Linked DNA regions of Homo sapiens. The protein of the gene in region 1 interacts with the protein of each later gene in a pairwise test. Each region holds a gene or a part of one and is shown in the gene's direction. Other genes may lie near its edges.

Evidence for each region.
Region 2: the proteins of FMR1 (region 1) and SYNGAP1 interact in binary tests that used the Homo sapiens proteins (3 or more experiments, as listed by UniProt).
Region 3: the proteins of FMR1 (region 1) and MME interact in binary tests that used the Homo sapiens proteins (3 or more experiments, as listed by UniProt).
Region 4: the proteins of FMR1 (region 1) and SPPL2B interact in binary tests that used the Homo sapiens proteins (3 or more experiments, as listed by UniProt).

The regions. Positions count from the first base shown.
Region 1 is NC_000023.11:147,935,366-147,944,201, forward strand, and holds part of FMR1 (fragile X messenger ribonucleoprotein 1), read left to right. Parts: intron 1-1,138; coding exon 1,139-1,248; intron 1,249-2,100; coding exon 2,101-2,235; intron 2,236-2,733; coding exon 2,734-2,796; intron 2,797-5,210; coding exon 5,211-5,297; intron 5,298-7,765; coding exon 7,766-7,961; intron 7,962-8,836.
Region 2 is NC_000006.12:33,435,229-33,444,064, forward strand, and holds part of SYNGAP1 (ras/Rap GTPase-activating protein SynGAP), read left to right. Parts: coding exon 1-77; intron 78-286; coding exon 287-385; intron 386-2,134; exon of another isoform or gene 2,135-2,253; intron 2,254-2,439; coding exon 2,440-3,063; intron 3,064-3,102; exon of another isoform or gene 3,103-3,190; coding exon 3,191-3,335; intron 3,336-3,546; coding exon 3,547-3,691; intron 3,692-5,500; coding exon 5,501-5,737; intron 5,738-5,944; coding exon 5,945-6,146; intron 6,147-6,352; coding exon 6,353-6,531; intron 6,532-7,224; coding exon 7,225-7,266; intron 7,267-7,660; coding exon 7,661-8,732; intron 8,733-8,836. UniProt on the Homo sapiens protein: Major constituent of the PSD essential for postsynaptic signaling. Inhibitory regulator of the Ras-cAMP pathway.
Region 3 is NC_000003.12:155,074,719-155,083,976, forward strand, and holds the start of MME (neprilysin), read left to right. Parts: upstream 1-5,600; 5' UTR 5,601-5,748; exon of another isoform or gene 5,749-9,258. UniProt on the Homo sapiens protein: Thermolysin-like specificity, but is almost confined on acting on polypeptides of up to 30 amino acids. Biologically important in the destruction of opioid peptides such as Met- and Leu-enkephalins by cleavage of a Gly-Phe bond.
Region 4 is NC_000019.10:2,351,802-2,356,549, forward strand, and holds the end of SPPL2B (signal peptide peptidase-like 2B isoform 2 precursor), read left to right. Parts: intron 1-1,144; coding exon 1,145-1,408; 3' UTR 1,409-3,294; downstream 3,295-4,748. UniProt on the Homo sapiens protein: Intramembrane-cleaving aspartic protease (I-CLiP) that cleaves type II membrane signal peptides in the hydrophobic plane of the membrane. Functions in ITM2B and TNF processing.

The DNA.
Region 1 (8,836 bases):
TGAGAAGGCTTTTCACTGAGTTCTTATCTAGCATTGGCTCAAAGCAAATTTTTGCTTCCATCTTTTCCCCCAACTTTGCCTTGAGCTTTGCCTTTAAAGGCGAAAAGGAAAAAATGGAAGATGAGATGGTGAGGGCAAGCACATGGTGGATGTGGCCAATGTAAGGGTACTTAGGTACCTTGGGTGAGCCCTCAGAATCAGATGTAGTTCACATGTACATTTCCAGAATTAGTAATTCTTAAGTTTGTAATGTCTTGCTTTACCACTCGTGTCATGATGCAAATGAAAGCAGTCATTTTCCAGTAATGTATATGATTGTAAAATAAATAAGGAAATGATCAAGTACCTATTTTTTACTGGTACTTGAAATCCCAAGTTTTAATAGATGTTACTGAAAAATACTTAAATTGGTTTAAAGCTTTTTCATTGTGGTTTTGAGTTATCTTAAAGTGGGTTTTCTTAATCTTTTACTCTGTGACTAATCCCTTCACTTTTTAATACATTGCTAAAGTTTGTAAGTAATGCACAGGAGTGATACTCTGTTAACACATTGACCTTGAAGAATTTGTATTCCTTTTGGATGTATGTATAGCTGCTTAAGCCACTTTCAGACTTAGATTATCTTTTATAAATGTGCCTTCCATACAGAATTCTGAAAATATTTACCATGGACAAAGAAGCAGATTTAAATCAGGTACAGACAAGAATTGAAAGTGTTGAATAAGTGAATATATTTCCCATTCTCTCTACTTTTTTCTTAATTCTTATAGAACTTTGCAGAAAGAATGATACATACCACAGTACCAGCAAGTTTAAAGCGTACCCTTTTGTGCAAAAATAAGAGGTTATCTTTGAACTGCCTTAAAAATCCAAAATTACCCTATCAGTTTGCAAGTATTAATCAACTCTGGTACCTGACCAAAGGAGTTTAAACAATGATGTCCTAATTAAACAGAAAACCAGATTAACCATCTTGTTGAAAAGAGTCTCTACTTTGGTTTTGAAATCTTACAATTCAATACATACACATACACATAAAAATATCTATCTATATGAATGTAATAGTTTACAGTAGGGCTGTGCTTACTGCTTTGAGGTATGTGTTTTTAAAACCAAACTTGATTTATTTATTTCTTAGGCAAAGTAATAGGAAAAAATGGAAAGCTGATTCAGGAGATTGTGGACAAGTCAGGAGTTGTGAGGGTGAGGATTGAGGCTGAAAATGAGAAAAATGTTCCACAAGAAGAGGTATGTTACAGTGCGAATATTTTGTGGCACATATAATAAAAGTAAAAGTTTTTTATGTGATATGTTGAGGACCTCTAATATGTGCATAAAGTGAATGCAAATATTCTGATTATCAAGCATGCCTGCTGTAATTAATGTTATAATTGTAGATAATGGCCCTTCTCTGTCCTCTAATGCAGTGAGTTTGGATTAGTCACTTTATTGAATTCTTTTTTCCTGATCTTTAAAATGGGTAGTTATAAATTTTTAAATATGAGACATACATCACTGGGTCGAGTGTTAATGGCAATTTAATAAAATAATATATATGTAAATGCTTCGTAAAGCACTTTGTAAATGTTAATGTTGCTGACAAAAGCAAAATTGGAACACAGGTTTTCTGGCTTTCATCTTTTCACTTTTTTAGTGTGGGGATTGTGTAGTATGTGTGTTTATTCTGTGTGCTTTAAATTTATTTCTGTGCTTAATATCTCTTCCCCATCCTCCTTACCTTTAAATTCTGTAACCCTTTTATCTTCATAAATATATGCTTTTTGTAGCAGCTTTTAAAGTATTTGCATGGGGTAGAGAGGTGAGGATGCACCTTTCTGTGCAATAGTACTCTTAAGATACTGTCTCATCAAAGAGCCGTAATTTTCACATATTGTCTAGCTTTCTTTTTGAAAGATTCTTTTAGCTAAAGTTAAATCTTTTTTTTCTGCGTACAATTTGTATTCGGTAATTTTATAAACCAAAACTGTTTATAATAACTTACATTTTTTAAAAATATGATGATTGATAACACTAATAGAGCTAAATAAAGTCTTAAATTGGTCCTTTTTTTCTCTTTTGTGTTTTCTGTTTTTTACCAAGGAAATTATGCCACCAAATTCCCTTCCTTCCAATAATTCAAGGGTTGGACCTAATGCCCCAGAAGAAAAAAAACATTTAGATATAAAGGAAAACAGCACCCATTTTTCTCAACCTAACAGTACAAAAGTCCAGAGGGTAAGAATTACTTGTCACTTTGAATTACAATACAAGTAATTTGTCTCAGATGTCACAATTGGTATTTTGGATGTTTTCTCTGGTTAGACTTGTAGGCTACTTATGTTCTATTTTTTTTCCAAATGTAATTGCCAGCTTATGAGATACTACAAATTAGTGTGATACATACTTTTCAATTTATTCACAGTAACAACTCTTATGCCATAAACACAAAATAATGGGGTTGCATTTAGTGGTCACATTTTTCTTTTGACAGTGGACTCTCTTTTTTCCATGCCTTCTCTCTTTAAATTTTGCAGGTATCGTAGCTCAAAATACACCTTCTGTTAGTTGCATTAGTTACTACTTGAACCATATTTTAGAAACTAATTTTCTCTGTTTGAACTAATCTGTTTAGAAATGGGTTTAAAAGTCCTGCAGTGAAAGTCCTGCGTTCAGGCTTCTGTGTATCGTTTGTTATAGTTAATGACATCCCTTGCATTCCTTATACTGCTTTAGGTGTTAGTGGCTTCATCAGTTGTAGCAGGGGAATCCCAGAAACCTGAACTCAAGGCTTGGCAGGTAGGAAAACATTCCTTGAGAAATACACTTTCAGTTTATATTTTAATGTTTATTCCCCTTGTTAACAAAGATTACAAATGATCCTCAGGATTAGGGACTGGAGGGAGGAGTGTTTGTGGGTATGTGGATCCATTGCCCTGGAGTTAAAGCTTAAACACCTTCATGCCGCTTGTAAGGCTTTTCCTAATTACTTGTCTAGTTATCATCTTTAAATTATCTTCTCCCTTGCACTCTAGAGAACCTTAAGCCATACTGAAGTACTTTGAGTTCTCTGAACATTCTCGTGCTTATTTTGCTTCTAGACATATGTACAGGTTTACTCTGCCTGGAATGCTTTTTCTCCTCCACATGTCACCTCATTTTGACCTTATTCCTTACAAAGCTTTCCTTGTGTACTTGCCGAAGATCCCCACCCCCTTGACTGGTTCAAGAGCCTTCCCCTTCTGTTTTGCAATGTGCTCACCCCTAGCATAGCACTTAAACATAGATGTTTATTTGTTGATCTCCTCAACCACATTGTAAGTTCTTTGAGGGCAGGGAGAGCTGGTGAGAACTGTTTATGGAAAAAAATGTTGTGGACTCATGGATTAAAAGCAAAGGTGCCATTTTACAAAGAGGACTATAACGGCAAGTGGATTGGATATGTCTCATTGCCGGGCAGCCCATTATTCCAGAACACAGAGTAACTTTTTTCTGGGGTCCGTACTAAAGGCCATCATTCCATTCTTGCCTTTCTTCATTTTAATTTACTATTCAGGTCTACTCGTGAAGTGCTTAAATTAGAGTGGCCCTTGGGGTACTCCAGCAGTTTAGACATGTTGCAAGAAAAGATATTCGTAAATAATTTGCTCCGAAGTCAATCTAACTAAATCTGTTACATAGGATTTTAAAGCTATTTTGGTGATATTTGACCCAGAGGGAAGGGTGTAGCATTCATTCCATCACATGGTATTTTGGGAAATAATACAGTTAAAGGCTTTTGTAACAAATAAAGCTTGTTGGAGAAAAACCCAACATGCAGAAATGAATTGCCAGTTATTAATTTGCACAATTGTTTCTAGGTTTCCCTATAACTTGTGACAAGAAGTAGTTGTTTTTTTTTTCCCTCTTAATATATATATATATGGGCTAGGAGTACAGACATTTAGCATATGCCTTTTAAAAATCTGTTCTTATGTTAAGTAGTGTCCATAGAGAGAAGTTCAAACTTTCCTTGTGATTCAGCCTTTTAAAATTTTCAGAGTACATTATTGAAATGTGTATGGGCTTGATAAAACTTAATGCTTGTCAATGTACCTATTTTTTTGTCTCACAGATTATTCAGTGCATTTTTATCCTGATGTTTTTGTTTGTATTTTGTGTGTACTCTATTTACTTGGTTAGCAGAAATGATTTACTTTTTACTTTTGTACCCTTGGTATTTCATTTTGATTTTTTTTTTAAGAATTTGATCGGCCAGGCGCGATGGCTCATGCCTGTAGTCCCGACACTTTGGGAGGCCAAGGCAGGCAGATCGCCTGAGCCCAGGAATTCGAGACCAGCCTGGGCAATGTGGCGAAACCCCGTCTCTACAGAAAGTACAAAAATTTAGCTGGGTATGATGGCATGCACGTGTTGTCCCAGCTATCCAGGAGGCTGAGGTGGGAGGAACACCTAGGGCCTGGGGAGGTCGAGGCTACAGCGAGCCATTATCATGCCACTGCACTCCAGCCTGGATAACAGAATAAAAAGACCCTGTCTCAAAAAAAAAAAAAAAAAAAGAGGCGGAGGCGGGCGGATCACGAGGTCAGGAGATCGAGACCATCCCAGCTAAAACAGTGAAACCCTGTCTCTACTAAAAAAACAAAACATTAGCCGGGCGTAGTGGCGGGTGCCTGTAGTCCCAGCTACTTGGGAGGCTGAGGCAGGAGAATGGCGTGAACCCGGGAGGTGGAGCTTGCAGTGAGCCGAGATCCCGCCACTGCACTCCAGCCTGGGCGACAGAGCGAGACTCCGTCTCAAAAAAAAAAAAAAAAAAACAAAAAAGAAAAAAAAAAAAGAAAAAATTTTGATCAGGATAAAGCCTTTCATAAATGAATTAGAGCATCTTATACTACTCATTTTGTTTATACATCTCATGGTAAAGCTTGTATAATTTTGAATTATACATTTTGTGATTTTGCTGATACTGAATACTAGTCTTTATAATAATCTGATACGTTTAAAAGGTTGCTATTGATCTATTCGTATTCACAGTAGATGTGTAAAGTAGTATATCAACTACTTTTGTTTTCATATATTGATTTATATTTACAGCAAACATTTGTATACCTGCTGTTCACCAGATCCTGTGCTAGGGAATTAGTCGTTATTTGCATTTTTCAGATTAATCTATCATTACTTTTATAGGATCATTGTTGCAATTTCTTTTTCAGGGTATGGTACCATTTGTTTTTGTGGGAACAAAGGACAGCATCGCTAATGCCACTGTTCTTTTGGATTATCACCTGAACTATTTAAAGGTGAGAACAGAAAGAACTTTAACTTCTAATCCTTTTGTACTAAAATATACAAACTTTATAGTAGATCTTTCAGCAGTTAGGACTCATTCTAGCCTGTGCAAAACACTGTATGACTTGTCAAAGGTAATAGAGAAAATACGTTGTTTGGCTTATAATTTTTTTAAAAATGGAAGTCTTTATAAATTTAAGTACCAATATACCAGTTTTCAATAAAATTTTATACTTCCCTTTATTCTTCTCTTAAACCCTTACACTCAGTTTAGGCAATCCTGTACATAGCCTGTTAATCCATTTGATCCTTTCTAGCATTTTGGTTTTTTCCAGACAAAAATCTGTGTCTATAACTCTTGCCTTTATTGTTCCTTTTATGTCATTTATCAAGGAAATCTAAGCATTTCATGAAGTTCTTTGTTTAAATGTTTACCCTATTTTTCTCTTTACTGTTATTCAAAATACAAACTATTTGTGTCTTCTCATAAATGTTCAGTTTAGTTAGTGTGATGCGGTTATGCCTCCTTAAAATTTCAAACTGGAAGATAGGAACGAGGAGGCTACAAGGTGTAGTGGAGCAAGCACTGGATGGGCAATGCAGCAATTTACTTATAAGACTTCAGCAAATGAACTAGCTGTGTGACTTTAGGCAAGTCACTTCCCTACACTAGATGCTTCTTGAAATTCCTTTTGGCCAAAATGTTCTATACTTTAATGAAATGGAAACTGATCTACTTCATTTTCATAATGTTTTATTTGTATCCATACATATCAAAATTATAATGTAGCTGGTATTAAATGTTTTTAAAAAGCATTTCAACTCTATTTATGGCATTAAGAATTTTTTTGCTGATTTCTTGAAAGAAATAAAAAGTACATGATTTCTGCTTGTGTGTAAATAAGAATGAAAGGAAGAAAAAGTGTAATACTGGGCATGCCATTCATTCTTATGGTGGCCAGTTAATTAAAAGTGGAAAGGTTTCATCCAGCAAGGTTTACATGGGTAGGATACCTCTTTGATTTTTTTTTAAGTATGTTTATGTGTAATCTCTCTGTGTGTGTGTCTCTCTCGTAATTAGCTTAAATCATCATGAAGGCCTGGAGAGTTAGGATTGCATTGTATCAAATCCCTTGTTCTTTTGACTAATGTTCTTTCTTAGATCCTTTGATTTATTCTCAAGAATATCTTCTTTGGTTATCAGCAGCTGCCCTGTTGCCATTCTTTCCATCACCAGAACTTCCCTCGTTTGGGCCTGGCATCTCTCACCAAAAGGTGACTGCTTTGCCCCAGTGGGATAACCTGGACTACTCTTCTGTTTTGCAAGATATTCCTATTCCATGAGCTATTACTATACCTTTGGAGGAAGTCACTCACTCAGCTGCAGTCTCTCCTTTGCTCAAATTCTATGTAAAACAGATTCTGGTGTAACTATGTAAATTGCTAATGATGGCAGAGCACAGATGAAACGGACCAAATCCTTACCTGACCTTTCTTTTCCAGAAGCTGCCACAACCAAGATTTTAGAAACTTAGCTTTACAGGAGCTTCTCCAATGACTGTTCATGTAGACAGTCTCTATGATAACCTCTGCTTCACTGAGACGCCTACTACTACTATAGTTATGAATCTGATTCCCCGTAGCCAGTAAATGAGATGTTTATGAGTGGATTGGAAGGACAGTGGTTAGAAATGAGGTTTCATCTGGTTTTAACAGAACCCAACATACTGGAAGTGCTTTTTGTAAGGGTCTGTCATTGGACCCCAGGTGTATATTTCTATCAACTAAATGTATACTGTTTCTCGTACTTGTTGTAGCAGAGTTGTAGTCTTTAGGAAGTTTTCAAGGCATGATGTAAGACCTAGCTGTCTGGTCAGCTATTAAATAGTTTTGTTTTCCCCTCATGAGGAATAGTCAGCATTTTCAGTTGATGAAAAAATCATTGTTCCTTAACCATAGTATATGTTCTTTTAAAACAAAAGATGGCCCAAACTCAATGCTTTGTAAATTAAGATATTAACTGGCAAATCTATTTTAATCAAGATTATTTACAATGTGTGATTTTTAAGGTTAGCTGGTTATACCTTGAATGTCATTTATCTATATTCATACATTTTAGCATGTTTTATTTAATATCCTATCATGAAGAAGTCCCCAAAATAGCATATCTGTGCCTTAGCAGTAGAATAATTGGATAATAGTGCCAAATTAGACAACTTTAAATTTTATTCAGTATAATTTTACTGCTGAGTGTTTTTGTTATATCTCTAATTCTTGACATCAATAATCTGTTATCTGTAGTAATTTTCTTTTTAAGGAGATCATTCAATTTCCTGATAATTCTGTGTAACAGTGTTTACTGTAAATTTAGAACTGAAATTGAAATATTCCAGTATATTTTTATCTGATGAAAAGGAGAAAGGTTTTATTAAGTAAAATGTCAAATTATTTTTACTGTTATCTTGTATATTTTAAATAGGAAGTAGACCAGTTGCGTTTGGAGAGATTACAAATTGATGAGCAGTTGCGACAGATTGGAGCTAGTTCTAGACCACCACCAAATCGTACAGATAAGGAAAAAAGCTATGTGACTGATGATGGTCAAGGAATGGGTCGAGGTAGTAGACCTTACAGAAATAGGGGGCACGGCAGACGCGGTCCTGGATATACTTCAGGTACAAACTAAGCATTTTACTCAGTAACTTTATCTGTTCCTAGACTTATAGCTGCTAATCTCTAATATTCATTAGAACCCCATTATAACAATTTGCCGCTACATGGTTTCCAATTCACAGTGGGTTAAATTGTGTTACAGGAGACATAGAGTAAAAACCTGATGATAAACACGTAGAGTTCACAGGGCCGGTGCAAGTTCTGTTCATGCTCTGATTGGGGGTAAATCTGCAAAGCCCTTGTGTGTTGATGATTTTCTTAAGGCCTCTCCTGATTTTATAACTGTATAGTCAAAACTTTTTTCATTTGTGTACTGTGGCTCATTTTTATTTTGTCAGGTATGTGCTGGTCATACTTGCTGGATGGACTGTGTAAATCAGGGGTCTGCCTCTTGTGGCTCATAAGGTGATTTTGAGTGACATGGCCAAAGTCAGCCCTAGGCACAGTCAAGAAGTAGGCGAAGTTTCTCTTTGCCTTCCCAGCTTTTCTGTCCGTGCTTCTTTCTTCTCTCCCAGTACCTTTCAGTGAACCTGATCCCCACCTGCCAGTGCCTACTGTCTTTCTTGCTCAACAGTGTATCTCCTTTGTAACTTGCTAATGATGGTATAAGGTATAATCCATTTCACGCATATTTGCATTTCAAAAAGGAACTCTTTAAGATGGAAAAGCCTTCAAGATCCACAGGAATGAAGCTATAATGGTGAAGCTATAATTGGTCATTAGCTCCAACAGAGGAAGAGAGAGGTAGTAGAGCTGATATTCTGGAGTTGGGGAGAGTTACCTACTCCTAAGGCCAACCTTGAACCTAACCCCTAACCCCTCTCCCAACAGTCTGTTCTTTTTACTCATGAATTTCTGCCTCACCGTGGAGCTCTTT
Region 2 (8,836 bases), on another chromosome or scaffold:
TGGAGCTCAACTTGGATGAAGATTCCATTATCAAGCCAGTGCACAGCTCCATCCTGGGCCAGGAGTTCTGTTTTGAGGTACTGGGTCTGGTGGGCTGGGGAGGGCCAAAGGACAGGGGTGATGGAAGGTGGGGGGCAGAGAGGTCTAGAGAAAGTGGCACAGGTGGGGACATCAAGGAAACAGAAACTTCTGGGACTGGAGGAAAGGGTAGGCCAGGGAGGAAGAGAAGGTAGCAGAGTCTCCTCCCCTCTGTAGCCCTTTCCCTCAACTCCACACTCCTTTCTAGGTAACAACTTCATCAGGAACAAAATGCTTTGCCTGTCGGTCTGCGGCCGAAAGAGACAAATGGATTGAGAATCTGCAGCGGGCAGTAAAGCCCAACAAGGTATTGGGGAATAAAGGGGACACAACCTGTGCAGGGCAAAGGTTGCACCAACACGGGAAGCTGGGGGCCTAGGGAGGAAAGTGAGTTAAAGGAGGAGAGGCTTGGGGAAGGAGAGGATTGAGGTACAGTGTATCTGGACAAGCAGGGGGAGACCCCCATTATTCTGAGTCCCCCATTTCTTTTCGCTTTCTGTACTGCTACCCTGCCTTACGATCTCTTTCCCTGCCATAGAAGTCATAGACTTACAGAGTTGATGGGGCTCTGGAAATTCTTTAGTCTAGCTTCCCTGCAGGCAGGAATGCTTCACTAATACCCCGCAGGACACATCAAATACACTTAGCCAAGTTTCTGTACCTTGGTTTCCTCTCTAAGACAGAGGGAACTGGTGGCAATGGGTTGGATTAAATGATCTCTAAGGTCCCTTTGGCACATAAATTCTATGAGTCTGTTCTTCCCAAAACTTCATGCTTCCAGTTCTGTCAGCTATTCTCTGTATCCCAGTTTCTAGCAAGCTTACAGTCCTAGTCACACTCCTCTGGGGGGAACTCTTGTGTCTTGATGTCCTTAAAGAACTCAACCCAAGATGCTGACATGATCTGACCTATGCAGAGTACAAACACCATGTTCCCTTTCAACACACTGCAATATCACCTGAGCCTTACCATTAGCTTGTGCTCAATTGTATCCCCCCAGGCCCTTACTGATTCTTTTTTTTTTTTTTTTGAGACAGAGTCTCACTCTGTCACCCAGGCTGGAGTGCAGTGGCGTGATCTTGGCTCACTGCAACCTCCGCCTCCTGGGTTTAAGCAATTCCTGTGCCTCAGCCTCCCCAGTAGCTGGGATTACAGGCATGCACCACCACACCCGACTAATTTTTGTATTTTTAGTAGAGACGAGGTTTCACCATGTTGGCCAGGCTAGTCTCAAACTCCTGACCTCAGGTTGTCTGCCTGCCTCAGCCTCCCAAAGTGCTAGGATTACAGGCATGAGCCACCACATCTGGCCAAGCTTTACCCATTCTATATGCAATTCTTTTTTCACAATTTCTGATAGTCTCTGCAGGACTTTCCAGTTCCCTTCAAATTCTACATTAATATTTTTGGCTTGTTATTCCAGCTTTTGAAATCTTTCCAATACTGTTTGTGTTGTCTAGTGTATGTCTACGCTTCTACAGTAGCTTCCTGGGGCTGCTATAACAAACTGCTACAAACTGGGTCACGTAAAACAACAGAAATTTATTCTCTCACAGTTCAGGAGGCTGGAAGTCCAAAAGCAAGGTATCAGCAGGGCCACGCTCTCTTTGATGCTGTAGCAGGGAATCCTTCCTTGCCTCTTCCTAGCTTCCGGAGGTTGCCAGCAGTCCTTGGCATTCCTGGGCTTATAACTGCATCCGTCTAATTTCTGCCTCCATCTTCATGTAGCTGGCTTCCTTCTGTGTGTCTCTGTATCCTGTATCTCTGTGTCTCCAAATCTCCCTCTCCATATAAAGACACCAGTTTTTATAAGGTGGGTTAAGGGTCCACTCTAATTCAGTATGGCCTCTTTTTTTTGAGATGGAATATCGCTCTTGTTTCCCAGGCTTGGAGTGCAATGGCATGAGCTCAGCTCACTGCAACCTCCGCCTTCCAGGTTCAAGTGATTCTCCTGCCTCAGCCTCCTGAGTAGCTGGGATTACAGGCACGTGCCACTATGCCCAGCTAATTTGTTTTTGTATTTTTATTAGAGACGGGGTTTCACTATGTTGGCCAGGCTGGCTCGAACTCCTGACCTCAGGCAATCCACCCACCTCGGCCTCCCAAAGTGCTGGGATTACAGGAATGAGATACCATGGCTGGCCTCTTCTTAGTTTGATTACATTTGCAGGGATCCTGTTTCCAAATAAGATCACATTCACAGGTTCAGGGTAGACATGAGTTTTGGTGGGATACTATTCAACCCAGTACACCGTCTCACCTTATGATTGCTGTCTGTATCCCACTTTCTTACTGTCTCTCCTCTTTTGGTGTCTCTCTGTCCCTTCCCCCTTTAACATCATGCCCACCCCACCATGCCAGGACAACAGCCGCCGGGTAGACAATGTGCTAAAGCTGTGGATCATAGAGGCCCGGGAGCTGCCCCCCAAGAAGCGGTACTACTGTGAGCTCTGCCTGGATGACATGCTGTATGCACGCACCACCTCCAAGCCCCGCTCTGCCTCTGGGGACACCGTCTTCTGGGGCGAGCACTTCGAGTTTAACAACCTGCCGGCTGTCCGTGCCCTGCGGCTGCATCTGTACCGTGACTCAGACAAAAAGCGCAAGAAGGACAAGGCAGGCTATGTCGGCCTGGTGACTGTGCCAGTGGCCACCCTGGCTGGGCGCCACTTCACAGAGCAGTGGTACCCTGTAACCCTGCCAACAGGCAGTGGGGGATCTGGGGGCATGGGTTCGGGAGGGGGAGGGGGCTCGGGGGGTGGCTCAGGGGGCAAGGGCAAAGGAGGTTGCCCGGCTGTGCGGCTGAAAGCACGTTACCAGACAATGAGCATCTTGCCCATGGAGCTATATAAAGAGTTTGCAGAGTATGTCACCAACCATTATCGGATGCTGTGTGCAGTCTTGGAGCCCGCCCTGAATGTCAAAGGCAAGGAGGAGGTTGCCAGTGCACTAGTTCACATCCTGCAGAGTACAGGCAAGGCCAAGGTGAGTGTTGTGCCCTCAGGGAAAGGTGACTTGGGAATGGGCACTTGCTTGGGGGTTAGTGAGGACAGGGCAAATTCACGAGATTGGGTTGTGCAGAGGCTGACACTTGGATTTTCCTGGGCCTCAGGACTTCCTTTCAGACATGGCCATGTCTGAGGTAGACCGGTTCATGGAACGGGAGCACCTCATATTCCGCGAGAACACGCTTGCCACTAAAGCCATAGAAGAGTATATGAGACTGATTGGTCAGAAATACCTCAAGGATGCCATTGGTATGGCCCACACTCAGGCCCTCTTCTTCCCAAACCTGCCAGATGTCCACCCCAGACCCCAAGTCCACCCTTCCACAGCTTGATACTTCCTAACCCAGAGTCCTAGGACTCCAGCCTCCAACACCTGATTCTGAAATTTCCCCAACCCTGGCCACCCCCTTCCCTGCCCTTGGAAAGTGTGACCACACCCTCTTGTGCCCCCACCCCCCAGGAGAATTCATCCGTGCTCTGTATGAATCTGAGGAAAACTGCGAGGTAGACCCTATCAAGTGCACAGCATCCAGTTTGGCAGAGCACCAGGCCAACCTGCGAATGTGCTGTGAGTTGGCCCTGTGCAAGGTGGTCAACTCCCACTGGTGAGACTGGGAACGCTGGGCTGGGGGGCCAGGGTCGGGGGAATTATGTGTTCATCTGTTCATCTATCTGTCCATCCTCAAAGAGGACTGAGCACCATTTATGGGCAAAGCATTGTTCTAGGCGCTATAGAGCAAACAGGTGAAAGAGGCCTGGTCCCTGCCCTCAGAGGGCCTCCACCAGAATGGGGACAAATTAGAAGAAAAAAAAAAAAAGCCACAGAGCCATAATGGTGTGTAAGTGCTGAGTAAGGGTCCCCCCAACCTCTGTGTGACATAAGGTCAGAGAGAAGGCAGAGCTTTGAGATAAGTGGGGAAGAGGTGCCCCCTTGGGTAGGCTTTGAAGACTGGTTTAGGTTCTGATATATGGACATAGTTGGCAAGAAAGACATTTCAGAAGAAGGCTGTGAGAAAGGCACATGTGTGATGGTGAAAAGGCCCAGGAGTTTTCAGGGGACATTAAAGTAGGTTAGTAGCAATTACATCAGGTTTAGTGGAGCATGTGCCTCATAATGGGGAGTGGCGGGAGAGATGTCTGGGCAGGAAGATTAGCTTTAGAAACTGGAAGGCCTCAAGGAGTCTGAGGTCATTGGTAGGCCTTGGGATGCCATTAAAGGTGTCAGAAATATTGTGATTTAGAAGATTAATCCATAGGCTGGGCACGGTGGCTCACACCTGTAATACCAGCACTTTGGGAGGCTGAGGCGGGCAGACCACCTGAGGTCAGGAGTTTGAGACCAGGCTGACCAACATGGAGAAACCCTGTCTCTACTAAAAATACAAAATTAGCCAGATGTGGTGGCACATGCCTGTAATCCCAGCTATTCGGGAGGCTAAGGCAGGAGAATCACTTGAATCTGGGAGGTGGAGGTTGTAGTGAGCCGAGATCACACGATTGCACTCTAGCCTGGGCAACAAGAGTGAAACTCCATCTCAAAAAAAAAAAATTAATCCATAAGTAGAGTGTATGTAGTAGAGTAGAGGGATGTATGTTGGGGGATGACTGGAATAGAGCCAGCTGGGGGCTCGGAGGCATGAAAGTCAGATCCTGAATCAGAACAGTGACAGAAGTTAGGAAGGAGCTACTGGAAGGACCCTCTCGGGAAAGGATCAGTAGGAATTGTCAGCTTATTGGAAAGGAGGGAGCATGTCTGTGGGGAGTCACGGATGACTCAAGAGGCCATGAGGCTGGTGGTTGGGAGACCGGTGGCCTCATTGACAACCAGGAAAGTCAGGAGGAGGAGCCAGTTGGAGGTGTGGGGGCGATGGTGAGCTCTGCTTTACACCAGCCGAGTTTAAGGTGTCAGTGGGACATTGAAGTGGAACTGGGAGGTGCGGGGAGTGAGCTCTGAGCCATTCCAGGGACTGGGGATCATGCCTGGGGCACCTCCATCCCCATTTCCCTGGAATCCAGAAGAGTTGGGGGGTCCGAGCTCCCTGTACCTCAAGTGACCCTCCATCTCTCTCCCATCTCTGTCTCTCCCTGGTGTCTGTTTTTCTTCTCCTCCTCTCCTTGTCTCTCTCCCACACCCCTCCATCTCTCTCCCACGTGTCTCTCCCCTCACCTTCTCTCCCCCTCCATTTCTCTCTCCCTAATCTGTCTGTTCCCTCTGCCATGGCCCCCTTCTTCAAGCAGCCTCCCATCTTGCTCCTGCGGTCCCTCCTTCCCTGTCTCTCTCACCCCTGTTTCCACACCCTCACCTCCTACCACCCCCCTCAGCATGTTCCCTGGAAGCTGAGGGTCTCTGGGGCTCAGTCCCGGTCTCTCTCTTTCTCTCTCTCTCTCTCTGTCTCCCCGACCCTTCCCCCCAGCGTGTTCCCGAGGGAGCTGAAGGAGGTGTTTGCTTCGTGGCGGCTGCGCTGCGCAGAGCGAGGCCGGGAGGACATCGCAGACAGGCTTATCAGCGCCTCACTCTTCCTGCGCTTCCTCTGCCCAGCGATTATGTCGCCCAGTCTCTTTGGGCTTATGCAGGAGTACCCAGATGAGCAGACCTCACGAACCCTCACCCTCATTGCCAAGGTCATCCAGAACCTGGCCAACTTTTCCAAGTGAGGGAAGCTTCAGGAGTGGGCAGGGCAGGGAGTGGCAGGGCAGGGAGTGGCAGGGCTGGGGGTCGGCAAGAAGGGTCTCCTGAGTCCCCAGAGATCCTGAGATGGGGAGGCTATGATACCTTGTGTGTGTGTGTATGTGTGTGTATGTGTGTGTGTGTGTGTGTGTGTGTGTATGTGACCTTTATCTTCTGCATTCTTGGCTAGGTTTACCTCAAAGGAGGACTTTCTGGGCTTCATGAATGAGTTTCTGGAGCTGGAATGGGGTTCCATGCAGCAGTTTTTGTATGAGATCTCCAATCTGGACACGCTAACCAACAGCAGTAGCTTTGAGGGTTACATCGACTTGGGCCGAGAGCTCTCCACACTGCATGCCCTACTCTGGGAGGTGCTGCCCCAGCTCAGCAAGGTCAGCAGATCCCCTCTTTGCCCTATCCCCAGATGGCTCCAGAGGTTCCTGGAGCCTGAGAAACTACCCTTTGAAGATTTTTTTTCTCCCCTTGTTTCTCGAGGTGTCACCACTACTATCCCAACTCAGGCCCCCTCCACCTGCACCCTCAGAGGCCCTCTTAGAGCTGGGCACTGAGCCCCCAGGTAACAGCCTCACCCTTCCAGGAAGCCCTCCTGAAGCTGGGTCCACTGCCCCGGCTCCTCAACGACATCAGCACAGCTCTGAGGAACCCCAACATCCAAAGGCAGCCAAGCCGCCAGAGTGAGCGGCCCCGGCCTCAGCCTGTGGTACTGCGGGGGCCATCGGCTGAGATGCAGGGCTACATGATGCGGGACCTCAACAGGTGAGCACCCTGGGACAGCCAGGCCTGTGCCCTAGGAGCCCTTCTCCTATTCTAGATACTCCTCACTGGGCCCCACATGCATCTCTCTAGGGCTTGAAAGAAGGGAGGAAAAAGCACCAAGTTCTCAGGGGAGACGATAAGGAGACAGGTACAGTCAGTGGTAGGCTGAGAGCCCTTTACAGCCTGAGGGAGTGAGAGATTTGGAGCTCTAGGAATAGGGCTGAGGCTCCACCAACTCACGGCTTAGTTGTAAGCCTAGAGCATCCCTGCTGCAAGCTCTGATTTGCTGTCCCTCTGCCTGCCCATGCTAGTCCCCAGGCTGAGGTTCAGCCAGCATGTCATGTCAGCCATGTGTCAAAATGTTCAAACATCTCAGTAATAGCTAGTGAATAAGCACTTCCCCCAGCCCCCGACCACAACCCCACAGACCTCCCCATGATCCAGCACTTAGAGCAGTGACAGCAGAAGCCTAGCAGGGCCTGCAGCCTGCTCCAGAGTCCCAGCCTCCATTCTGATAGGTGGTGCCCGTGCTTCATTTGCTGCTCATTATTTTGATGATGGCCCTGCTTTTTCCTCTGCCCGTGTCTTCCTCCATGACACCATACCCATCCCACCATTCCCGCCTCTCCTTTCATTTGTCCACATCTCTCTCCTTCTCTGTCTGTGCTCGCCCCTCTTTCCATCTCTCTCCAGCTCCATCGACCTTCAGTCCTTCATGGCTCGAGGCCTCAACAGGTGAGGGGCTCTCCCCTCCCCCGCCCTCCTCTCCTCTCCTGTCTGTTCCCTCTCCCACTCCACTGGCCTTCGCCCTACTCCTCTCCTCTCCTCCTCCATGGACCTCATCTCCTCCATATGTGCCCAGCCCTGCCCCCATCCCTTCTCTTGCTGCCCCCATCTCCCCTCCTCTAGGCCTCACCCCCTTCCCGGAGGGGCCCTGTCCTTTCCCTTTACTCACCTGTCCCCTCCCATCCTCCCTGCCTGCCCTCTTCAGGGCTGCCACCGCTAGCTCTCAGCCCTTCCCTCTGGGTCCCACTTTTCACCCCAAGGCCTGTGCCAGACCACAGCAAGGTTCAATTGCTAGGAGCCCTGACCTTACCTTCTGCTTGTGTGCCCCCTTCCCTTCTGACAGCTCTATGGACATGGCTCGCCTCCCCTCCCCAACCAAGGAAAAGCCACCCCCACCACCGCCTGGTGGTGGTAAAGACCTGTTCTATGTAAGCCGTCCACCCCTGGCCCGTTCCTCACCAGCATACTGCACGAGCAGCTCGGACATCACAGAGCCAGAGCAGAAGATGCTGAGTGTCAACAAGAGTGTGTCCATGCTGGACTTACAGGGTGATGGGCCTGGTGGCCGCCTCAACAGCAGCAGTGTTTCGAACCTGGCGGCCGTAGGGGACCTGCTGCACTCAAGCCAGGCCTCGCTGACAGCAGCCTTGGGGCTACGGCCTGCGCCTGCCGGACGCCTCTCCCAGGGGAGTGGCTCATCCATCACGGCGGCTGGCATGCGCCTCAGCCAGATGGGTGTCACCACAGACGGTGTCCCTGCCCAGCAACTGCGAATCCCCCTCTCCTTCCAGAACCCTCTCTTCCACATGGCTGCTGATGGGCCAGGTCCCCCAGGCGGCCATGGAGGGGGCGGTGGCCATGGCCCACCTTCCTCCCATCACCACCACCACCACCATCACCACCACCGAGGTGGAGAGCCCCCTGGGGACACCTTTGCCCCATTCCATGGCTATAGCAAGAGTGAGGACCTCTCTTCCGGGGTCCCCAAGCCCCCTGCTGCCTCCATCCTTCATAGCCACAGCTACAGTGATGAGTTTGGACCCTCTGGCACTGACTTCACCCGTCGGCAGCTTTCACTCCAGGACAACCTGCAGCACATGCTGTCCCCTCCCCAGATCACCATTGGTCCCCAGAGGCCAGCCCCCTCAGGGCCTGGAGGTGGGAGCGGTGGGGGCAGCGGTGGGGGTGGCGGGGGCCAGCCGCCTCCATTGCAGAGGGGCAAGTCTCAGCAGTTGACAGTCAGCGCAGCCCAGAAACCCCGGCCATCCAGCGGGAATCTATTGCAGTCCCCAGAGCCAAGTTATGGCCCCGCCCGTCCACGGCAACAGAGCCTCAGCAAGGAGGGCAGCATTGGGGGCAGCGGGGGCAGCGGTGGCGGAGGGGGTGGGGGGCTGAAGCCCTCCATCACCAAGCAGGTAGGTGAAGGCAGGAGGAAGGCGGGCTGGGTCACAACAGGGAGGGAAGAAGGAGATGGGGGGTGGGGTTGAAACAGAGTCTGTGGCCTGAAGTTACAATCTTC
Region 3 (9,258 bases), on another chromosome or scaffold:
ACCACACCTGGCCAATTTATGTGTTATTTTAAGGTGTTTGTGTGCATTGTTTAACAATTTCTAGATATATATGTGGTTTTATATTTATTTAATCATGTTAAGGTCCAAAAATGTGTTATGAAAAGTCTTTGAGATTCACTGTAGCTTATTTAATAGTTTGGCATATAATCAATGTTTATAAATATTCCATAGGTGCTTAAAAAAATATACAGTCTCCAATTCTTGGGTGAAATGTTCTATATATTTCTATTGGATTATCTTTTAATATTGTTATCCAGATCTTCTATATCCTTACTGATTTGTGCACTTGACATATCAAATATTGAGAAAGGTGTATTAAAATCACCCATTAACATGGGTGATTTTACCCTTTTAATTCTTATATTATTTTTTGTAGTATTTACTTAAAATTTATGATACTAGATGTAATCAAGCTTAGAATTTTATCAATGTTATCAGCCTGCTGAATTGATTAATCTCTTTTTTTGGTAAAATTTTAGTTTTATTACAACTTTACTATACCAGCAATCCTTCACTTATATTTGTTTGATATATTTTTTGAACTATTTTACTTTCAACTATGCTATAGCCTTATGTTTTAAGTGTGTCTCTTTTAAACAGAAGACAGCTGAATTTTGTTTATTTGTTTGTTTTATGCCAATCTGTGTCTTCTAACTGGAGAATTTGGTCCAATTATATTTATTGCAATTAATATATTTTGATTTATTTCTAGCATTTTATGTTATACTTCCTATATGTTCTTCTCTAATACTTTTTATTTTTCTGTCCTCCTTTAGATTGACTTATGTTTAATTTTGTTTTTTCTTTCTGCAAAACTTGACCTTATGCACTCTATTTTTATCTTTTTTGTGGTTGTATTAGTACTTTTTACATACATAATTAACCTAATAAAGTCTAAAGTATATAATTAATCAATATCATTATCCTTCTTTCCAACAACATAAGTAAGGACTTCATTTTATTTATTTAGCCAGGGTCTCACTATGTTGCTCAGGCTGGTCTCAAACTTGGGCTCAAGTGATTTTCCTGCCTCAGCCTCCTGAGTAGCTGGGACTACAGGTGCACACCACCAGGCCTGATTGAGTAAAGACTTCAGAGTGCTTTAATTCTAATTAAACTCTCCCAGCTTACACACCCCGTTGTCTGGTTTTTTAGTTGATCTTTTTTATCACCATTCTTTTATTTTTGTTAATGTTTGCTTAGATTTATTTATGTTGTTACTATATTCTTTGCTTATCATTCTTTCTCACATATCAGATCTTCCATAAACTATTATTTTGCTTCCTAAATTCATTCTCAAGAAGTTCCTTTGGTTACAGTCAGTGGTGGGAAGTTTTTCAATTTTTATTTTGAACAGTCTAGCTTGGACTACTTTACCATAGATCTTTAACTTGGAAATACTCAGGCTACACAATTAGTATAAATTCTATTCCTACATCCATTTGAAGTCTGGCCAAATCATGAATTCTTACAGAAAGTTTTTGTTGTAAGTTTACCAGCCTGAGTCAGGACTGAAAAAAGCAAGTATATCTATGTTTCTTGTGGAAGAGTAGGGGTGAGGAGTCGGAGTTGGGGCTGAGTTTCATTTTTTGTTAGCCCACATTTTCACTTTGCCCTGGACTACACTTTGTATGAAGTCCCTTGGCACTTGCAAGTCCTGTTAAAGTGAAAGCTCTAGGTCGCTTAAGTCCAGTGAGGCCTCTTGAAATGGATAGATACCACCAGGACAGCTACTGTTTTCAGCACTCACATATCCTTCTTGATTTTTTTGTCGGTATTACAAGAAAGACATCTTGATCCAGACCCCAAAAGAGGGTTCTTGGACCTCTTGCAAGAAAGAATTCAGAATGAATCCATAAAGTGAAATCAAGTTTATTAGGAAAGTAAAGGAATAAAGAATGGCTACTCTATAGGCACAGCAGCAGCATAGGCGGCTTGACTGAGTAAACTTACAGTTATTTCTTCATTATATGCCAAACAAGGGGTAGATTATTCATGAGTTTTCAGGGAAAGGGGCAGAGATTTCCTGGAACTGAGGGTCCCTCCCCTTTTTAAACTATATAGGTTAACTTCTGGATGTTGCTATAGCATTTGTAAACTGTCATAGCACTGGTGGTAGTGTCTTTTAGCATGCTAATACATTAAAATTTACATATAATGAGCAGTGAGGACCACCAGCGGTCACTTTCATGGCCATCTTGGTTTTGGTAGGTTTTGGCTGGCTTCTTTACAGTATCCTGTTTCATCAGCACAGTCTTTCTGACCTATACCTTGTGCCAACCGACCTCCTACATCATCGTATGACTAAGAAGGTCTCACCTCCTGGGAATTCAGCCCAGCAGGTCTCAGCCTTATTTTACCCGGCCCCTATTCAAGATGGAGTTGCTCTGGTCCAAATGCCTCTGACAGCTCTCTTTGTTTTTGGCTTCTAAGATTTTCTTTTACTTGCCTGCTGGCTCAATGGTGCATATAAAAATGCACTATAGCATTTTTAAAGGACTTAAAAAAATTCATCAAGCATTTGTGTCACACACAGTGGTTTTTAAGGATCCATTCTGCAAACTGCTAGAACCAATGCATTCCATTCTTAATAACTTATGTATGGCCACCAGGAGGGCTACTTTCTCCTCCATTCCTATAAGTGGCCAAACTGAGTGATCTTGGACCACCTCAGTAAGCCTCAGTTGTCTAAATTTACTTACTGTAAATAGTTGGGGACTCTTTAAGATCCCTTAAAAAAATTATCTCAAACTTGCACAAACTTCTGGGAGGAGATTTAGCATTCTTGATTTAAAAACAAACAAACAAACAACAACAACAAAAACCCTAAGTTTCTAATCAACTTTAATGAAATCAAGATATTGTAAGGGAGATGTGGGTAGTCCAAGCTACTTAAGAGGCTGAGGCTGAAGGATTGCTTGAGCCCAGAGTTAGAGACCAGCCTGGGCAACACAGTCAGACCCTCATCTAAACAAAAAAAAACGAACAACAGCAACAACAACAAAAAACAGAAAGAAAAGAGAAAAAGAAAAAAATATTTGTTCTGGGAAACCAGTTACCAATCCATACTGTCGACTATCAGCTGAAAGTCAGAGTCTAAAATTAACTCTAAGTAGGCATTTTTTTTTTCTTTTGTCATACATTTTAAGTAAATCCTTTTTTTTCCTTTAAAAGAGTCCTCACCGCCAGGCATGATTGCTAACACCTGTAATTCCAGCACTTTGGGAGACCGAGGTGTGTAGATCACTTGAGGCCAGGAGTTTGAGACCAGCCTGGCCAATATGGAGAAACCCCGAAAGTAAAAGTACACACACACACACACACACACACACACACACACGCAAGCAAAATTAGCTCGGTGTGGTGGTGCGTGCCTGTATTTCCAGTTGCTCAGGAGGCTGAGGCAGGAGAATCGCTTGAACCCAGGAGGCAGAGATCACACCACTGCACTCCAGCCTGGGCGACAGCACGAGACTCTGTAGGAAAAAAAAATTCCAGTTGAGATGCTTTCCAGGGCGCTAGTCAAGCCCCGCATGCTTATTTGTGGGAGTGAAAACACCAATATTTCGGGATTGTTGTGAGGACTAAATAGTGTCTGTAAGATGCACAGAGAAAGCGTAAATAGACGTCAATAGCACTTGTTAGGTCTACACACTCCATTTTTCCTCTATATTAATCGAATTATTTAAAGATTGGTTAGCTTTTTGGGGAAATGTCTCTCCATTGTATTCCACTTATTAGGATGAACTACCTTTTCTCCTTGCTTTTCAGCTTTCTCTGCTATGAAAAAGATGGAAAATTTTTTAGCACAAGGGGACTCTTCTCAAGCAGCAAATCATTTTGATATTAAAAACAGATAATTGCAAACCCAGTTTTATTTCAGTATGAATTCCGCAGTGGAGTGTGAATATGTGTGTGTATGTGTGTGTGTGTGTGTGTGTGTGTGTGTGTGTAATTACCTGTGATTCAAAAGAGGAAAGGGATCAGTATTAAAGGTACTTGTACACTGGAAGCAAAAAAAAAAGGAAGTTTAGTTCCTCTGAGCTCCTTGGCAATTATAGCTGCTAAAGGTAGCTTTTACAAAGAAACTGCCTTTGTGCCTAAAGTATTTATTTCCTTGTTTGTATTTACCCCTTTGAGGAGGAATCGCTGTGTCTTGAGTGAAAGGGGTACGCTGCTTGCTTGCATTAAACTGTGAGGGTCCAGGCGCATTACGGCTGATTTCAGTAGGTAGAGCAGACACACTTTAGTTTATTTTTCTCTTTCTCACTCCCCACCCTCAACCTCCGATGTACACACGTTTTAAGATTCCCTGAAGTCAGGAGGTGGGAGCGGAGAGTTTCAGTTCAGATCTTGACATGAGAGTACTTCGACCAAGGAAAAGAAAGGGAAGAAAGAGGGAAGCGGGGTGGAGAAAGCAGGAGCAAGGAAGGAAAGAAGGAAACGGGGAGGGAGAGTAAGAAAAAAGAAAACGAAGGAGGGAGGGAGAGAGGACATTTAAATGAAGAAGGAAGGAAGCTTGGATTCAGGGAGGAAAGGGAGCGGGAAAGAGAGCGAAAGAAGAGCGTGAGAAGAGGCAAGCATTATAGTCTCCGGTCCACAGGGGAGAGATGGAGCCCCCTCAGGACTAGAGAATCCCGAAGAGCCCGTGTATTGTTTTCTTGAAAGCCCCGAAGCTAAGCAATTCTAAAAATGTTTAGCAAAGCCCTTTTGGGAATGGTGAGATGGGGGGTGGGGAGGATGGGACATTTTCATTGCCACCGCCCGCCCCCCGTCTCCCCGGCCCCCTCACATGAAGTGACTGGATTTGGGAGACCTAGCGGAAACCTTCAGGTCACCCAGGGAACTGCTCCTCTCTCTGGTCCTGCAGCGGCGAGGCGGGGTAGGGGGTGGGGGGGGTGGGCCGTGAGAGCGCCGAGACGCGCGGGGCGCGGAGATGTGCAAGTGGCGAAGCTTGACCGAGAGCAGGCTGGAGCAGCCGCCCAACTCCTGGCGCGGGATCTGCTGAGGGGTCACGGTGAGTCTCTGTGGGTGCGGGTCGGAGGGATGCCCAGGTGCCTCGTCGCCCCACGGCCCGGGCGGAGGCGGGTCCGGAACCTCCCCCAAGTCCGGCCTCAGCCTGGAGCCCGCGCGCCTTGGGCGGATGCACGGACTGAGAGGCGCTTGGCTGGGCTCTCAGCCCGCCACTGCCACCCGGCCCCGTGCGCTCATTGGTCGGGATGTGTCGGCTCAGCAGCCTCCAACTTCTCCCGAATCCCACTGGTGAGTCCCAGGAGAGCGAGCTGAGGGAGAAAGGTCCAAAGGGCGCGAGCGCCCAGGGCGCTGGGAGCCCGTGGGACGGGCACGGGGAGGGCAGAGCCAGCCGAGGGGAGCGGCTGCCGGGAGGTGCGCTGAGCAGGGTCCGCAGCTAAGGTCCAGCGCGATCCGAGCGCCCAGGACCCTGCGGCCGTGGAGGAGGCGTGCCCTGGGAAGGAGCCGCTACTGGGACCTGAAGAGTGAGGGGAGGGAGAGGGGCCCAGAGGGTGACCTGGAGGAGGGCTCTGGAAGTCACGTCAGGTTGGCTCTTCAGGTTCATTTCCATAGTTCCCTGCGGCCTCTGCCTTGGGGAGTTATGTTTTGTTACCGAGATCCGCGCTACCAGATTGCACCGGGGCTGATTTGGGGGCTGGGAATTTGCCATTCTGCTGTACAGACACTGATTTTTTTTTCTTCTTTTTAAAAAGCAAGGTTTGTTTTCATTTTGGTTTCTGTCGGATTTTCTCATTTGTAACTCACTTTTCTATTTTTACTTTTCTTAACCGGAAGATCTTTTCATTATCCCACCTCTTCATCTTGCTTTTAACCTGATTTCCTATTATATAATTAATGCTTAAATCTCACAAGGGTTGGTCGGTGCGGGGCTGGTGTGTCCTTTTGTAGATGAAAGTTTAAGACCTCTTAACTGGTTTCAGTCTATTTGTCTGGTTTCAAAATAAGGGTAATTGCAACCAAATATCCCTCTTTAGCTTCTCGATCAAGTCGATTCCTCCCCCATATATGATTCAAATGGCAATTTTATTAAACTGAAAACTAGTACCTGACTTGCAGCGTCAGCATTTGGAAAGTGCTTGTCGGCAAATCGACTGTATGAAGGCGTGTAGCTTCATCCCCTGCCATTTTTGTGGGTTCTAGCACTTTAAAAAATTGTCTGGTAATTTCTTGGACTTAACCCTGTGTCTTTGGTTGTAGAGCAGCACTAACCAGGGGAGTAATATGGTTGGCACTTCGTGTCCAGAACTCCGTATTTCAGGCTGGGAAACACCTAATTAATGTCTGGGAAACAAGAAGATGATTTATCCTGAGTACCTCTGTCCTCAGCTTCTGCAGACACAGTTTAAATATGGAAACTGTTTCTCCTTCTTCCTGTGCCTCAGTTTCCATAGAACAAACTGTAATTGCATAGCACAGCTTCAGGAACCTGCAGATATAAGTTAATGTTATAATGTGCAGTGAAGATGAAAACTGCTTAGCTAAGTCTAAGTCTGTAAGTCAATGAGATTTCCTTTTTAACAAATCAGTTATCCAGGTTTCCTGCTTTGACTGTCTGATATAGTAATGCTTATGCTCAACTGGTATAAGAATTGCTGCTTTACATTGCTTTGAAATTAAGCTTACACTTAAAATAGTAATTTATTCTGTTGGTAATATTGTCGAGCTGAAGTTTGCAGGTTCTTGTTATCTTAGACCTCCTAATTCTCTATTCTCGTCTGTGGCAGTGTCCACTTTTCCGTTTAAACTTTTTATTTAACACATCTTCAGTTGAAGTGAAATATTTTAAGAATACAGGTATGTTTTTGCGTACCCTGCTTTATATGGGACTATAAGCCTCAACTTGGTATTTTTTTTTTTTTTGTATTCTTTTGTTTACTTGTCCCCCTTACTCTTCTCTATGGGATTGGGTGTGGTTAAGTTGGATATTCAGGTATTTGGGGTTTAGTCATATGTTCCACAGTGAGATTCCAGATACTGTCCCCTGATGTCTTAAAGAAAAATTGTGAACCTTCCAGAATTAACTGGAAATGAACGACAAAGTTAATTAGGAGATTAAACTTGCATCATTTCTGCTTTTGCTCAATGCTTTTGAAAAAAGGCTACTAAGAGCAAAAGACTTCCTTTAAGAATTTACAGGGCATTTACAAGAGGGGGAGATGGAGGAAGACTTTGCAGGTGATTCAAAGATTATATTGTTTTGATGCAGCTTCTGTCACTGTCTTCATTTCTCTGTAACTGTTTCTGCAAACTTGGGTGCTGACCCATTAAGAGCCCAGCTGCTTCAGTACCCAGTCTCAAGGGTAAGGAGGAGAAGCCAAGGGAAAGTAACTTACAGGGAGAAAGAAATGCTTATCCACTAGCTTTACTACACCACAAGGCATGGAGTTTCCACAGAGCACCTGTAATTTAACCCTGAGGCTGCCCTGGTTCACCCCTTCGCTTTACTTTACAGGGACACTGACTGTCATTTCTAAGGAAGAACTAAGAAAAAAAAAAGTCCTTTTATACCAGTAAAACATTTCTCTACATTGTCTTCTGACATATGCGGGGGGAACAATATTCAGGAAAGGGAAATACTTTAGCAAATGTGCTTAACATTCAGGTGTTCTTTAGGACAGTCATGAAACATGGGGAGACTGGGAGAATTATTATTGTTTACCTCTCTGTAAAGTGTCCAGAGTATTATTAAATTTGTTCCCCTCTTTCCTTTGCCCAACCAATACACTATTAAAATAGGACTACAATCAATGCAATTCCATATCATAACCCCAGGGGTGGTGAGACTAAGCCAGCATGCCTTACATAACCATTAAGTAAGACATTTTAACATTCAGGTACATTACATTCCACTTTTATTTAGCAGACACGGTTTTCATTGTGTAATAAAATATTTTTATTTGATAGTCTGTCCTTGCTTATAGCCTCATGTAATCAAGGGGACAGCATGTTTAAGACTTTGTATCCAGAACTTTAAGGTCTAGCTGTGGTTCGCTTATTAATAATTCACTGGGAAGGTTAATTTCTAGTTTTCTGCTGGGTCTCCCAGACCATACTTCAAATGTAGAATATGTTTCTTCTTTCTCCTATGCCTCAGTTTCCACAAAACACACCCTTAGAGAATTGTGTGTGTTCAACAAAGATCTTTAACTATAAGAGCATTTCTGAGCCGCCACTTCATCCTGGGACCAAATTCTAAGAGCAATTTGTATTGAGCTATAAACAGCTAATCTGCTAGTTTAAGATGTTCTTTTATACAGTCATGCAGAAAAATGGAAATTGTGTGTTCTAATCCTTGGAGACTGGCTGATAAAGTGTCACTAGGCCCCTGATGAAATTTAATATTTAGGCTTATATCCCCTTAATTTTCCCCCTAAATTTCTACAGTACGCTTTTACTGCATGATGATACAGCTTTATTTTGAACAGTGACCAAATGTGTTCTTTACAAAGAATATTGACGAGTTGTGTAGTCTTGAACACGTTGCCTGACTTCTCTGTGCCCCAGTTTCCTAATTCTTTATTCTATTCTGTGGCAGTGTCCACTTTTTGGTTTAAAGTTTTTAACACATCTCCAGTTGAGGTGAAAGATTTTAGGAATACAGGTATGTTTTTGCATACCCTGCTTTATACAGGACTACAAGTATCAACTTGGTAACTTTTTGTACTATTTTGTTTACTTATCCCCCTTACTCCCCTCTTAAATGGGATTGGGCGTGGTTAGGTTGGATATTCAGGTATCTTTTGGTACAGTGAGTGACCATTTTCAGAATGTTGTCTAACCAGTTAATAGATACTGGTATCAGTAGTAGTAGTAATTTTGAACTGTAAAAATAAAGGTTGTTTTTATGACTAAAATAAACTACTTCATGTGTTCATTCGTTTTGCTGTTTATCTATATTAATATTTCAAATTATTGCTTAGTCAAAACCTCAAGGTATTAGTCACTGGTTTTTGAGCTTATAAAGGAAGCCACTGGAGCAAGATATAAAATTAACCATTGATGTTAGTCCAGAGTTCAAAAGGGTGAGTTTAAAACTTTCTTAATGATGGTACAGCAATTATTTGCTTATAAACTGCTGAATTAATCCTACTTGAGTATTTAACCAAGTCTTACTGTCTAATTTTGCTGAGATTTTCAGTGATATACCAAAGCAAAACAAAACAAAACAACAGCAACAAAAAACAAAAGGTTGTGACTGAGACCTGT
Region 4 (4,748 bases), on another chromosome or scaffold:
GCCAGGTGGGGCCCGGGGGTGCCGGGTGGGACGCGGGGGTGCCGGGTGGGGCCCAGGGGTGCCGGGTGGGACGCGGGGGTGCCGGCTGGGACTCGGGGGTGCCATGTCCTTTCTAAAGTTGCTTCTCCCAAATAGTAGTGCCCCACCTGCGTGGGCATCGGGCATCCATCGCCTCTCCTGCCGAGAGCGAGGCGCCTGACTGGGGGTGGGGCCGCAGGGCCCTGGACGAGGGGAGCAGGCCTGCCCTGGCTGTGGAAGCCCTGTCCCCTGTCCCCCTTGGCAAGGCAGGGGGTGGTTGGCAAGGGTTAAACGTGAGATGCAGGGAGGGCTTACGCCACGTCGGTTCTGCTCTTGTGATTTTTTGTGAACAGGAGTGGGTGGGACCCCCCCTTCCAGTGTGCCGCTCAGGTGACTTCCTGGGTTCCCGGGACTCAGGCGCATTGCGCCCGAGAGCTGCCCCCGCCCCTCCGGGCAGCGCCTCTTGGAGTCCATGACCGCCCAGGGAGCAGCCCTGCGCCATAGGGCGATCCTCAGGCTGTTGGGCATGGGTGCAGCTCCTCCCATAGCTGATCTCCCTCTGGGGGAGATGCCGCGCTTCTCAGCGGTGCTGGCCGCGCATGGGGTCCTACGTCATGTTTTTGTGGAGGTTAAACCACACCCGTCCCTGCCGCACTGGTGTGATGCATTGGGTCGAGCTGTGGTTCCAGTGCCGAGCTGGGCTCATGGGTCCCACAGATGGGACCATGGCCTGAGACCAGGCCCCAGGGAGAAGTCTCCTGGGGCCAGCACCCCCACCCCAAAGGTCTCCCCATTCTGATGGGCATTTCAGAAGGTTCAGGAGAAGCCGGGGACCAGGCCCAGGGGCGAGAGACGGTAGTCCAGGCTTTTCTTTGGAGAGGCTTTGCACAGCTCCCAGCCTCTGCTGGCCTCGGATGGCCCTCCCGCGGCACCTGTGCCGATGGACAGGGTCCTGGGTGCCCGTAGGTTATGGAGCCGGCCCCCTCCTTGGGTCCAGAGCCCCTGGGGATGGCGCCTCATTTTGACCCTGCCCCCGTGGCCTGCGGGTGCTGGGTGTCCTGGCCCCTGCCAGGGTCCTCCTCTGGGTCCCTGTCTCCGCCTCACCTCTGCCTCCCTTCTCCTGTAGAAAGTCCTACCTCCATCTCCGTGGGCCCCAGCACCAGCCGACGGCCCGCAGCCTCCCAAAGACTCTGCCACGCCACTCTCCCCGCAGCCGCCCAGCGAAGAACCAGCCACATCCCCCTGGCCTGCTGAGCAGTCCCCAAAATCACGCACGTCCGAGGAGATGGGGGCTGGAGCCCCCATGCGGGAGCCTGGGAGCCCAGCTGAATCCGAGGGCCGGGACCAGGCCCAGCCGTCCCCGGTAACCCAGCCTGGCGCCTCGGCCTAGGGGAGGGGTGAGACGCTCGCTGCCGTGCCCGCCACACCAAGATGTTGGGGCTGCCTGGCGCCCACTGGAGACAGACAGACAGACGCCTGTCCCCCGGGACCGAGGCCTGTGCCGTCCCCACCCGCCCCAACATGGTGCTCATCCTTGCCGAGACCCCTGCGGTCTGTGCCCGCGCCCAGCCCAGCTGCCCCGGCTGCACGCCTGCTGCTCCCAGCTCGCCCGGCTGCCACAAGCTCTCTGCGGGTCCATCCTCCCCACCGGGGTCCGTCCTCGCAGGCCCTGCCCGGCCTCTCTGCAGACCCTCAAGCGTCGTCTGCATGAGTGAGCAGGCGTGGGTGGACTCTGGCCGCGGCCACACTTGGTGCTCACCAGCTGCTTCGGCCTTCAGGTGACCTCCCTCCCCACGGCATCCTGCTCTCCGGGTGGAAGAGCAGCTTTCTGTCTCCCAGAAGGCATCGCTTTTCCCTCTTGAGCAGATCGGAGCCCCTGGGAGGTTTGGAAGCTGCCTCCAAGCCTAGGACACGGACCAGTGGCCGGGGCGGCCTCTGGCCCCTGACGCTGGCTGAGACAGGCCCGTGGGGCGGGGTTTTGGGGCGTGAACAAGGCTGGCAGTAAGTGGACAAGCTGCTCCCCTGGCTAAGGCCCTGCCCTGCCCTCAGCCAGAGGTGCCTGGCCATGCCTGCACACTCCTCCCCATTTTAATAAATGGTCGCAACTTCTAGAAGTCCTGCTGGTGCCACCTGGTGGGGTGGACGTCTCTCAGACTGCCCTTCTGACAAGCAGGGGTGGGCGCCAGGCAGGCTGGGTCAGGCCCTCAGGGGTCCCTGGAGCCCTGGGAGGGAGGGACTGGGTCGTGGGAGGTCCTGGTAGCTCCCGGCACCCAACCTCGCTTCCCGTGTGGGCCCCGTGTTGCTTTTCTGCTGAGAGGGGCTTGGGCCTCGGTTCTCCCTGTGGCAGCGGCATTGGTGCCTGGGTTCTTAACCCTCTGGACCCAGCAGCTAGGAGCTTCTGGAACCCACGAGGACATCTGCCACTGGCATGGTCTACTCACTGATGGGGTCCTCCTGACTCCAGGGCAGAGACGTCCGTGCGGGAACTGACCGAGGCGTGGCCCCAGGCCCCGGCATCCTCCCCTCGCTGCACGTGGTCACTTCCGAAGCAGCGCTCCCTGTGGCCGCAGAGACAGAGCCCGCACCCTGGCTGTCTGTGGTGCCTGGGCCCCAGCTCCCGCCCGCCACCCGCCCTGTTGAGTGCGGCCTCCAGACTCGAGTCCAGAATCTGTTTCTGTCAAGTCAGTCGTCCCCAGCTGCACACGGGGACTGCTGAGCGCTGCGCTCTCACGGGTCTGTTCCGGACAGAGGGTGGCAGGGGTGAGCCCTGATCCCTTACAAAAAATACCAGCTTCCCAGGGAGTAATGGCGCCTTCACTGAAGCCATTTTGTACATGGGGACGGGGTGGGGACGTCTCTTTTTTGGTGTTGGACGTTTGACCAGTGGGGAGGGGTTCAGAGGCGGCGGTCCTGTCCTTGGCTCCGTCTGTCCGTGTGGCCTTGCTGCCATTCCGTCTGATCATTAAACACAGCTTTTGATACATATGGCCCGGCCTCTGCCTCCGCAGTGCACGGCTTGGGGCATCTGCTCTGTGCAGGTCCCGGTGAGCAGAACTGAGAGCTGGCAGGCCGCCTGGCTGTCCTGCAGAGGACGGATTGGAATTGCCACCGCAGGGCCGGCCAGTGCTGTGAGGTGCCCAGCGTCACTCCCATGGGCTCTGTGGGCCATGTGGTCCCTGTCACGCTTCTCAGCTCTGCCACTGTTGCTGGAAAGCATCACAGACCATGTGTAAAATGGGCCAAAATACCTTTTACAAAATTAAAATAGAGATGGGGTCTTGCAGTGTTGCTGAGGCTGATCTCGAACTGCTGAGCTCAGACAATCCTCCTGTCTCGGCCTCCCAAAGCGCTGCAATTACAGGCACGAGCCACCACGCCCATCCCTCAAGTAATTTTCTCGCCAGACCCTGAAATTGGAATTGTATAGCATCCTCACGTCTCAAAAGAGTTTATTATTATTTTTTTCTCTTTAAAAATGCAAAGACCTGTCTTAGCCGCTTTGGGACAAGGTTTGGTTTCCAGCTGCTGCTGGCTGGCGCTGGGCCTGTGGGCACGTGGGTGATGGATGCGGGTTTGTGTGCGGGCCGAGAGGCCAGTGAGTCCTGAGCATCTGCCAGGCATCAGGGGCTGCTGTGTGTGTTGTTCTAGTCTCACAAAGTTCTCCGCTACGTTAGAGAAAGTGAGACCCAGGCTGGGCATGGTGGCTCACGCCTGTAACCCCAGTGCTTTGGGAGGCTGAGGTGGGAGGATTGCTTGAGCCTGGGAGTTTAAGACCAGCCTGGGCAACGTAGCAAGACCCCATTTCTACACAAATTACCTGGGTGTGGTGGCACACACCTGTAGTCCCAGCTGTTCAGGAGGCTGGGGTGGGAGAATTACTTGAGCCCAGGAGGTCAAGGCTGCAGTGAACTGTGATCGCACCACTGCACTCCAGCCTGGGTAACAGAGCGAGACCTTGTCTCCAAAAAAAAAAAAGGCCACCAGCAAGCCTCTGAGGCCACATGGCTGTGAGGGATCAGAGACATGGATTCCTCCAGGCCCTGAGCCAAACCACGACTGCCTGGCAGCGTGACGCCCTTGGCCTTAATGTGGAACAGGGTGAGGACGCAGCGGGAGATGGAGGCTCAGGCCTTACCACTCACAGCAAACCTGAATTCAAACCCACTGGGGAAGGGACGGCTTAATCACGGAAAGCGAATTCCAGAATACTTGAAGTCACACTTAGGTTTCGGTTTTTTAACTTGAGCAGTTCCTCGATACGCTCCAGAAGGAGCACCCCCAATTGCCTTTCCACGGGGGAGCTCACTGCTCGGAGGCCACTCGGCGCTGGCTCTGAACACCTCCCCTGTGTGCCTCTAGTGGTGATTTGTCCTGTCCAGGAAAAGAAAAAGTCGCTATGTCATTAGCTCCGGTGGACCTGAGCCTCAGGGCTGAAAGTTACAGTCAGGACTCAGCGCACAGAGCCCTGGGCTCACACCACGTCCACCTGTGACCACCTGCGGTCGTGGGCAAGTCCCTCTGCCTCCAACTCCCTGTCCTCTGGAAAGAGGGTTAGTAATGTACCTACTGCAAGGCACGACAGCCAGGATGTCACCAAATCAGCCATCTGATTGGACGCTTAGAAGCAGTCGGGACTTTTGTGCTAGTGACACACTTGATTCAGGAAGACGGGCTCCTGCCAGGCTCAGCCGGTGCCTGAGCTCCGGGGGGTGTGCACACCTCGACTGTCC